Linked DNA regions of Homo sapiens. The protein of the gene in region 1 interacts with the protein of each later gene in a biochemical or structural test. Each region holds a gene or a part of one and is shown on either strand. Other genes may lie near its edges.

What was found.
Region 2: the proteins of TLR2 (region 1) and TOLLIP form a complex in vitro, tested with the Homo sapiens proteins (one study listed by BioGRID).

The regions. Positions count from the first base shown.
Region 1 is NC_000004.12:153,687,004-153,690,817, forward strand, and holds part of TLR2 (toll-like receptor 2 precursor), read left to right. Parts: exon of another isoform or gene 1-898; 5' UTR 899-1,044; intron 1,045-1,050; exon of another isoform or gene 1,051-1,342; intron 1,343-3,814. UniProt on the Homo sapiens protein: Cooperates with LY96 to mediate the innate immune response to bacterial lipoproteins and other microbial cell wall components. Cooperates with TLR1 or TLR6 to mediate the innate immune response to bacterial lipoproteins or lipopeptides.
Region 2 is NC_000011.10:1,285,375-1,289,188, reverse strand, and holds part of TOLLIP (toll-interacting protein), read left to right. Parts: exon of another isoform or gene 1-293; intron 294-412; coding exon 413-565; intron 566-3,096; coding exon 3,097-3,187; intron 3,188-3,814. UniProt on the Homo sapiens protein: Component of the signaling pathway of IL-1 and Toll-like receptors. Inhibits cell activation by microbial products. Recruits IRAK1 to the IL-1 receptor complex. Inhibits IRAK1 phosphorylation and kinase activity.

The DNA.
Region 1 (3,814 bases):
CAATTAAAGTAGAAAAGAACAGAAAAACTTATAGAAAATTCTCATATATTTGGAAATTAGTAAATTTCTAAATAACCCATGGGTCAAAAAATAATCAGAATGAAAATCAGAAAATATTTTTAATGACTTATGAAAAAAATTACATATAAAAACTTGTCAGATGCACCTAAACTGTTGCTTAAAGGAAACTTACAACCTTAAGTGCATATATTAGAAATGAAGAGTGACGAAAAATGAATGAGCAAGCAAATACCTTAAAAACTGGAAAAGGAATAGTAAAATAAATCCAGAGAAATCAGAACAGGGGAAATAATAATATAAGAATAGAAATTAATGTGCTAGAAAATAGGGGATCTATCAAGTCAGAAGTTGATTTTTTGAAAATGCTAATAAAAATGATGAACCTCTGGCAAGACAATAAAAGCTGGTACAAATAACTCATCTAAGGAATAAAATTGAGGACCTCTCTTTTGTTAAATGACATAAGCAGGAGGCCATTATCCTGAGACTGTCTCTACACTTTGAGTTCTTACATAATAAACTGCAACCTAATTTAGTATACTACATAAACAAACTGAAACCTAACTTAGGAGCTTTTTTTTTGTAATTAATAGCTAAATTTCCACCAAATCATAAATAGCCAAGCTTTAGCCAATCACAGGCAGCCAACTGATCAGACTATGCCCAAACAAGGTAAATGCCTATTACACCATACCCAAATAAGGCAGACTCCTAGCTGAAGCCAATCAGGTGATTACTATGCTCTTGTGTTTGGCCTATAAAAGCTCACTGCTCACACTGTTGGATGCTCTCTGAAACTTTTGTGAATCTGAGTGCTGCCTGATTCATGAATCATTCTTTGCTAAAATAAACTCTGTCAAATTTAATTTGTCTGAAGTTTCTCTTTTAACAGTGTTTGGTGTTGCAAGCAGGATCCAAAGGAGACCTATAGTGACTCCCAGGAGCTCTTAGTGACCAAGTGAAGGTACCTGTGGGGCTCATTGTGCCCATTGCTCTTTCACTGCTTTCAACTGGTAGTTGTGGGTAAGTTCCTGCTCAGACTTGAGCACTATACATTTGCATTTTCAGCTCTCTGACTTTATTTGAGCAATTCTTTGATGGATTGGCTCCAGAATTGGATTGGATTCAGTGAAGAAACTGAAACTGGACTGGTGCTCTAGGAGGCCTCAAGTAGATAAGGTTACTAGAAGACAGGGAATCCTGGGCTTATCTGGATTTAAGGAGTCTACAACTCCATCTGCAACTCCAGCCGATTTCATTTATAAGAATTATGGACCAAGAACCTGTGCTTTTCTAGAGAAATGTGTGAGCCTTACTAAAGGTAACTTAGAATTACAATGGACTGCTGAGACCAGCTCGGTCGTGGAGACCCTAACCCAGCAGCGCTAGAGGAATCAAAGACACACACACAGAAATGTAGAGTGTGGAGTGGGAAATCAGGGGACTCACAGCCTTCAGAGCTGAGAGCCCCTAACAGAGATTTACCCACATATTTACTGACAGCAAGCCAGTGATAAGCATTATCGCTATAGATTATAGATTAACTAAAAGTATTCCTTACAGGAAACAAAGGGATGGGCCGAAACAAAGGGATAGGCTCTGGCTAGATGTCTGCAGCAGGAACACGTCCTTAAGGCACAGATTGCTCATGCTATTGTTGTGGCTTAGGAACACGTTAAGCGGTTTTCTGCCCTGGGTGGGCCAGGTGTTCCTTGCCCTCATTCCAGTAAACCCACAACCTTCAGCGTGGGCGTCATGGCTGTCACAAACATGTCACAGTGCTGCAGAGATTTTGTTTATGGCCAAATCTGGGGCTAGTTTATGGCCAGGTTTGGGAGCCTGTTCCCACATGTCCCCCTTTTTTGTTTTGCAAAGCAATAAAAGCAAAGGCAGCTTTGTCACAGTGAGCTACTTCTTGCAGGAGTCGGGATTCGCATATGCATACTATACAAAGACAAACAACACAGATTAAAAGCACAACCATCATTGAAATCACAGAGCTTCCAAGTGTCTTTATCTATTTTAATGGGTTAATCACTGCTAATCTGTCTGCAGCTCCTTCAAGCACTCCAGTTCCTGGCATTAAGGTCTGGTGTGCCTGGAATGCTTTAAATATTTGTTCTTTTAATATTGCAATATGGAAAGACAAGTTTGTAGAGTGTCTTCTAGGTGCTTTTTTATTCTTTCCTGAATTTGGTCTTATTTAAGAGCCATTAATAGTTTCCACAAATCCTTATGTTTAGCTCCTACAGCGGGCCATATCATTTGAGGGTGAGGTGCCACTATACCATCATGTTTCCAGATAATAGGAACTCTTGCCATATTTCTTGCTATTTCTACCATCTGACCATTTTGTTTAGACCAGCTAAACATAGTGTGGCCATGGCACGCAGACTGAGAGGTGCAATTTAAGCTAAACATCCCCTTAGGGGACCAATCAATAATGATTCCATAGGAATCACTGCGCAGCACCTCTGCCTATTCTGCAATGCAATCTTCCCAAACAAGTATGTTCATTATTTCTGGCCAGGTCCAATTCTGTTTACAAATAGGTTTTTGAGGGCAATATGCCTCAATTATAGAAACAGATTTATTATGGTAAATACTGAGATCAGAAAGCATGTGTAACTGTGTCATAGAATGATTACATCCAGGCATTATTGCCAGCCAAGATTGATAAATATGCCCAATAAGTATAATTGTTCTCTGTGTTAGCCCTTGTTGAAGGAATACTAATGGCAATGGTGATCACTGCTATCATAGCTATCATTAAATTACTCATTGTGACTGGTTGTCCCACTTTCCTCAGGTTTTCTTCCACCCTCTATGGCAGTTTCTTGATCTGTCCCCAGGTAGATGGCTGTGTTTGATGGTTGTTGCTCGTGATAGTTTGGGTCCTCCTCAGCATCAGTCTCGACATGGCTGCAACCAGAGGGTCCTCGGGATCCTCCCAGAATCTCTTCCTTGGCATCTGGCTCATGATAAGGTTTCAGGTGTCTTGATGGTATCCAAATCAGCTATTGATTCTGGCCTGGAGAAACACAAGCATAACCTCTACCCCAAGTTATTATTTTACCTATTTCCCAACTTTTTGTTGTCAGATCTCTGCACCAAGCCAGTTGTTCTGCTTCTGTTTTTGCAGCTGGTTTCTGTAGATGCTCTTCAGCTGCTGATAGCATCTGGCCTTTAGGCAGGCTCAAAAAATTTAAAGTCATTAATGCTAGATTCAGTTGTATATGGGGTGTCCTGTAATCCCTGTTTCCCCTTTTTGCTTTTGCAACTGCTGTTTCAGGGAGAGATTCATTCTTTCTACAATGGTTTGTCCTTGAGAATTATATGGGATGCCAGTAATGTGTTTAATATTCCATATAGAGAAAAATGTAGCTAGAGCTTGGCTAGTATAGCCTGGGGCATTATCTGTTTTAACAGAAGTTGGAATTCCTATCACCACAAAACACTGCAAAAGGTGATGCTTAACACATGCAGTCTCCTGATTGGCATGTAGCCCAGACAAAGTGAGAAAAGGTGTCCACACATACATGTACATAAGCTAGTCTCCCAAACGAGGGAACGTGTGACATCCATTTGCTAAAGATAATTAGGTTCCAATCCTCGAGGATTAACTCCTCCTGTTAAAGATGAGGAATGCACCATTTGGCAAGTTGGGCATCACTGGATAATAGCTTTAGCTTCTTTCCAGGTACTGTTATATCTGCATTTGAGACCAGAGGCATTAACATGGGTTAAATTGTGAAAGTGTCTAGCATTAGATATTGCAGTAGCAACTAGGCGA
Region 2 (3,814 bases), on another chromosome or scaffold:
AGACCCCGTGTCCTTTCCAGTCTGCACCCCGGCTGCTCTGGGGCTTGACAGGTGGCAGCCGGTGGAGCAAGGATGGGGCCCCGAGGGCTGGGGAGGAGCAGCCAGTGTCCCTGAAGTGGAACTGAAGGAGGACAGCAGCCCAGGGCCCTCGCTTTCCCCAGCCCCAGACCTGGCCCTGGCCCTGGCCCTGGCCCATCCTGGTGGAGAGAGGGAAGAAGTCCCCTACGGAGGCTGATATACGATCGTGAAGCCTGCGCTGCCCGAGGGGTCTCATCGATGGGGTGTTGGTGCAGGTGGGAGCCCTGTTCCACAGATAAGACGGGGACTCGAGGCGGGCCCACGATGGTGCGGCTGCAGGGGCAGGGTGGCCCCTTCCCTGATGCCTGGGGCCTCTCCCTCTTGTCTCCCGCAGAGAGCCTTCTCCATGGACGACCGCATTGCCTGGACCCACATCACCATCCCGGAGTCCCTGAGGCAGGGCAAGGTGGAGGACAAGTGGTACAGCCTGAGCGGGAGGCAGGGGGACGACAAGGAGGGCATGATCAACCTCGTCATGTCCTACGCGGTGAGCTGCACGCCTGGGCGGGGTGGGGCGCATTGGGGTATGTTGGAGCACGTCGGGGCTATGCCGCCCCACAGACACCCTTGTCTCTTTCCTGGAGGCACTGAGCCCATAAAACAGCAGGGCTCACGTTCTGAGGACAGAGGGCAGGGGCCCTGGGTGGTTTGGTGGCAGAGAGGGGCTGCCCTGCCCACTGCTCCTGCCCATGTTCTCTGTCTGGGGAAACAGCATAGGGGTTGTTTGTGTTCCTAAGATGAGCCAACCCTTTGTGGTGGTCTCCACTGCAGGCCCCTGTGTCCTCGGAGGACCCCCACAGCCCTTCCAAGCTCTGCCCTTAGGGTCCAGCTGAGCAGCCCTCCAGGGTCTGAGATACAGCCCTGGGCCCTGCAGGACACCAGGCTCCTCCCCACAGGGCAGGCATTGGCCGTGGTGTGGCAGGGCATCTCTGGAGATGTCGGGGAAGCCTGGGGGCTGCTGTGCTCAGGGTCAGGAAGTCGAGGCCTGGCTGTGGGGCCAGCACGTCAGCGCCCTGGCTCCCAGCCATCTCCATTCTCAGGGCACCTGCAGCTCCTGGGGGCATCAGGAGGGCCAGTTAGAGGCTCCAAGACGCAGAGCTCCTGCCGTCTCGTCTGTATCATCAACCAGAGGATTTTCAGGCTGTTACTGAAAAATGGTGCTGTGGGAAATGCCAGGCAGATGTGACAGCAGAGAGGGTGCAGCAGAGAGGGTGCAGCAGGGAGGGTGCAGCAGGGAGGCTGCAGCAGAGAGGGTGCGGCAGGGAGGCTGCGGCGGGGAGGGTGCGGCGGGGAGGCTGCGGCGGGGAGGCTGCGGCAGGGAGGGTGCGGCGGGGAGGCTGCGGCGGGGAGGGTGCGGCGGGGAGGCTGCGGCGGGGAGGCTGCGGCAGAGAGGGTGCAGCGGGGAGGCTGCGGCGGGGAGGCTGCGGCGGGGAGGGTGCGGCGGGGAGGCTGCGGCGGGGAGGGTGCGGCGGGGAGGCTGCGGCGGGGAGGCTGCGGCGGGGAGGGTGCGGCGGGGAGGCTGCGGCGGGGAGGGTGCGGCGGGGAGGCTGCGGCGGGGAGGCTGCGGCGGTGAGGCTGCGGCGGGGAGGCTGCGGCGGGGAGGCTGCGGCGGGGAGGGTGCGGCGGGGAGGGTGCGGCGGGGAGGCTGCGGCGGGGAGGGTGCGGCGGGGAGGCTGCGGCGGGGAGGGTGCGGCGGGGAGGCTGCGGCGGGGAGGCAGCAGCAGGGAGCTGCTTTTCTGGGCCATCTTGGCTCCTCCCACCCCCTTTTTGTTAAAGCTGGGATATTTTAAATCATGTCCCGGCCGTGAGTGACGATGTGTAAATGTCTCATGACACGTCTTTAACAGACGCTTTCATACAAACACAGAACCATCATGACGCTCCAGTGATTTTACCTGCAGTTGACAGTTTCGAACTCAGAGACGACAGTGGTGCAGTGACTTATCCGCAGTTGACAGTTTCGAACTCAGAAGACAGCGGTGCAGTGACTTATCCACAGCTGACAGTTTTGAACTCAGAGACGGCAGCGGTGCAGTGACTTATCCGCAGCTGACAGTTTTGAACTCAGAGGCGACAGTGGTGCAGTGACTTATCCGCAGCTGACAGTTTCGAACTCAGAGACAACCGCGGTGCAGTGACTTATCCACAGTTGACAGTTTTGAACTCAGAGACAACAGCAGTGCAGTGACTTATCCGCAGTGGACAGTTTTGAACTCAGGAGACAGCAGTGCAGTGACTTATCTGCAGTGGACAGTTTTGAACTAAACTCAGAGACGACAGCAGTGCAGTGACTTATCCACGGTTGACAGTTTTGAACTCAGAGACAACAGCAGTGCAATGACTTATCCGCAGTGGACAGTTTTGAACTCAGGAGACAGCAGTGCAGTGACTTATCCACAGTGGACAGTTTTGAACTAAACTTAGAGATGACAGCGGTGCAGTGACTTATCCACAGTTGACAGTTTTGAACTCAGGAGACAGCAGTGCAGTGACTTATCCGCAGTGGACAGTTTTGAACTAAACTCAGAGACGACAGCGGTGCAGTGACTTATCCGCAGTTGACAGTTTTGAACTCAGAGGTGACAGTGGTGCAGTGACTTATCCACAGTGGACAGTTTTGAACTCAGAGTTGACAGCAGTGCAGTGACTTATGTGAAGTTGACACTTTCAAACTCAGACACCACAGCAGTGCAGTGTGGTTCCCCCCAGGCCGACTCGACACCTACACTGGGATGTCCCTCCTGTCACCATCCTCTCTCAGTCACATCCCAGTTAGAAGGGGGTCTGTAAGCCCGAGCCATGTCACCTCCTGGATTTGAGGAGGTGGTGCAGGGGTGGGAGCAGGGCCCAGCGTCCCCTGTGCACTCAGGGCTCGTGTAGCGAGGGTGATTCTGGGCTGGCATGGGGAGGGCGATTCTGGGCTGGCGTGGGGAGGGCAATTGTGGGGAGGGCGATTCCCGAGGTTCTGATGGGTGGATGTTCCTCCTTGACCCCGGGACCATCTCCGCTGTGTTTCAGCTGCTTCCAGCTGCCATGGTGATGCCACCCCAGCCCGTGGTCCTGATGCCAACAGTGTACCAGCAGGGCGTTGGCTATGTGCCCATCACAGGTGCGTGTGCTCCCTCCCTGGGTGCCTCTCCCCTGGTAGAAACCCCAGGGCCTAGGGCAGGTGCGGGAGGAGGGAACGGGGCTTAGAGCGCCGGGGTGGGGACGTCATCCATTCTAGAATCCTGTAGACGTGCTGACCGCACACAGATCCTTTCAGGCCAGGAAGCCAAGGCTTACGTTTGAATTTTGTTTGCATATCTAGAAAATAGAATTGTTTTTTTTTTTTTTTTCTAATTGTTGGCAGAAATGAGGTGAGTTGAAATTTTCAGAGATGTGGAAATGTGGCTTTGAAACCCCGTTGTGCCCAGCTCTGTGCAGGAGAACCTCACGCCCCTGTCAGGTGACACGTGCTCTGCACTGTGCCGTCGTGTCCGAACCTCACGCCCATTGGGTGACGCGTGCCCTGCGCTGCGCCGTTGTGTCTGAACCTCACGCTCCTGTTGGGTGATGCGTGCTCTCTACTGCGCTGTTGCGTCTGTTGTCGTGTGTCACTGTTAGGAGTGAGCAGCCTGTGGCTGCAGCAACACCAAGCTGGGATGTCGCTTTTCATGCTGTTGCATTTTCGGTCCAGCTGTGACTGTGGTAGCTGCTGGTGCAAGACCGGCCCCCACCATGGATGGGCCCAGCC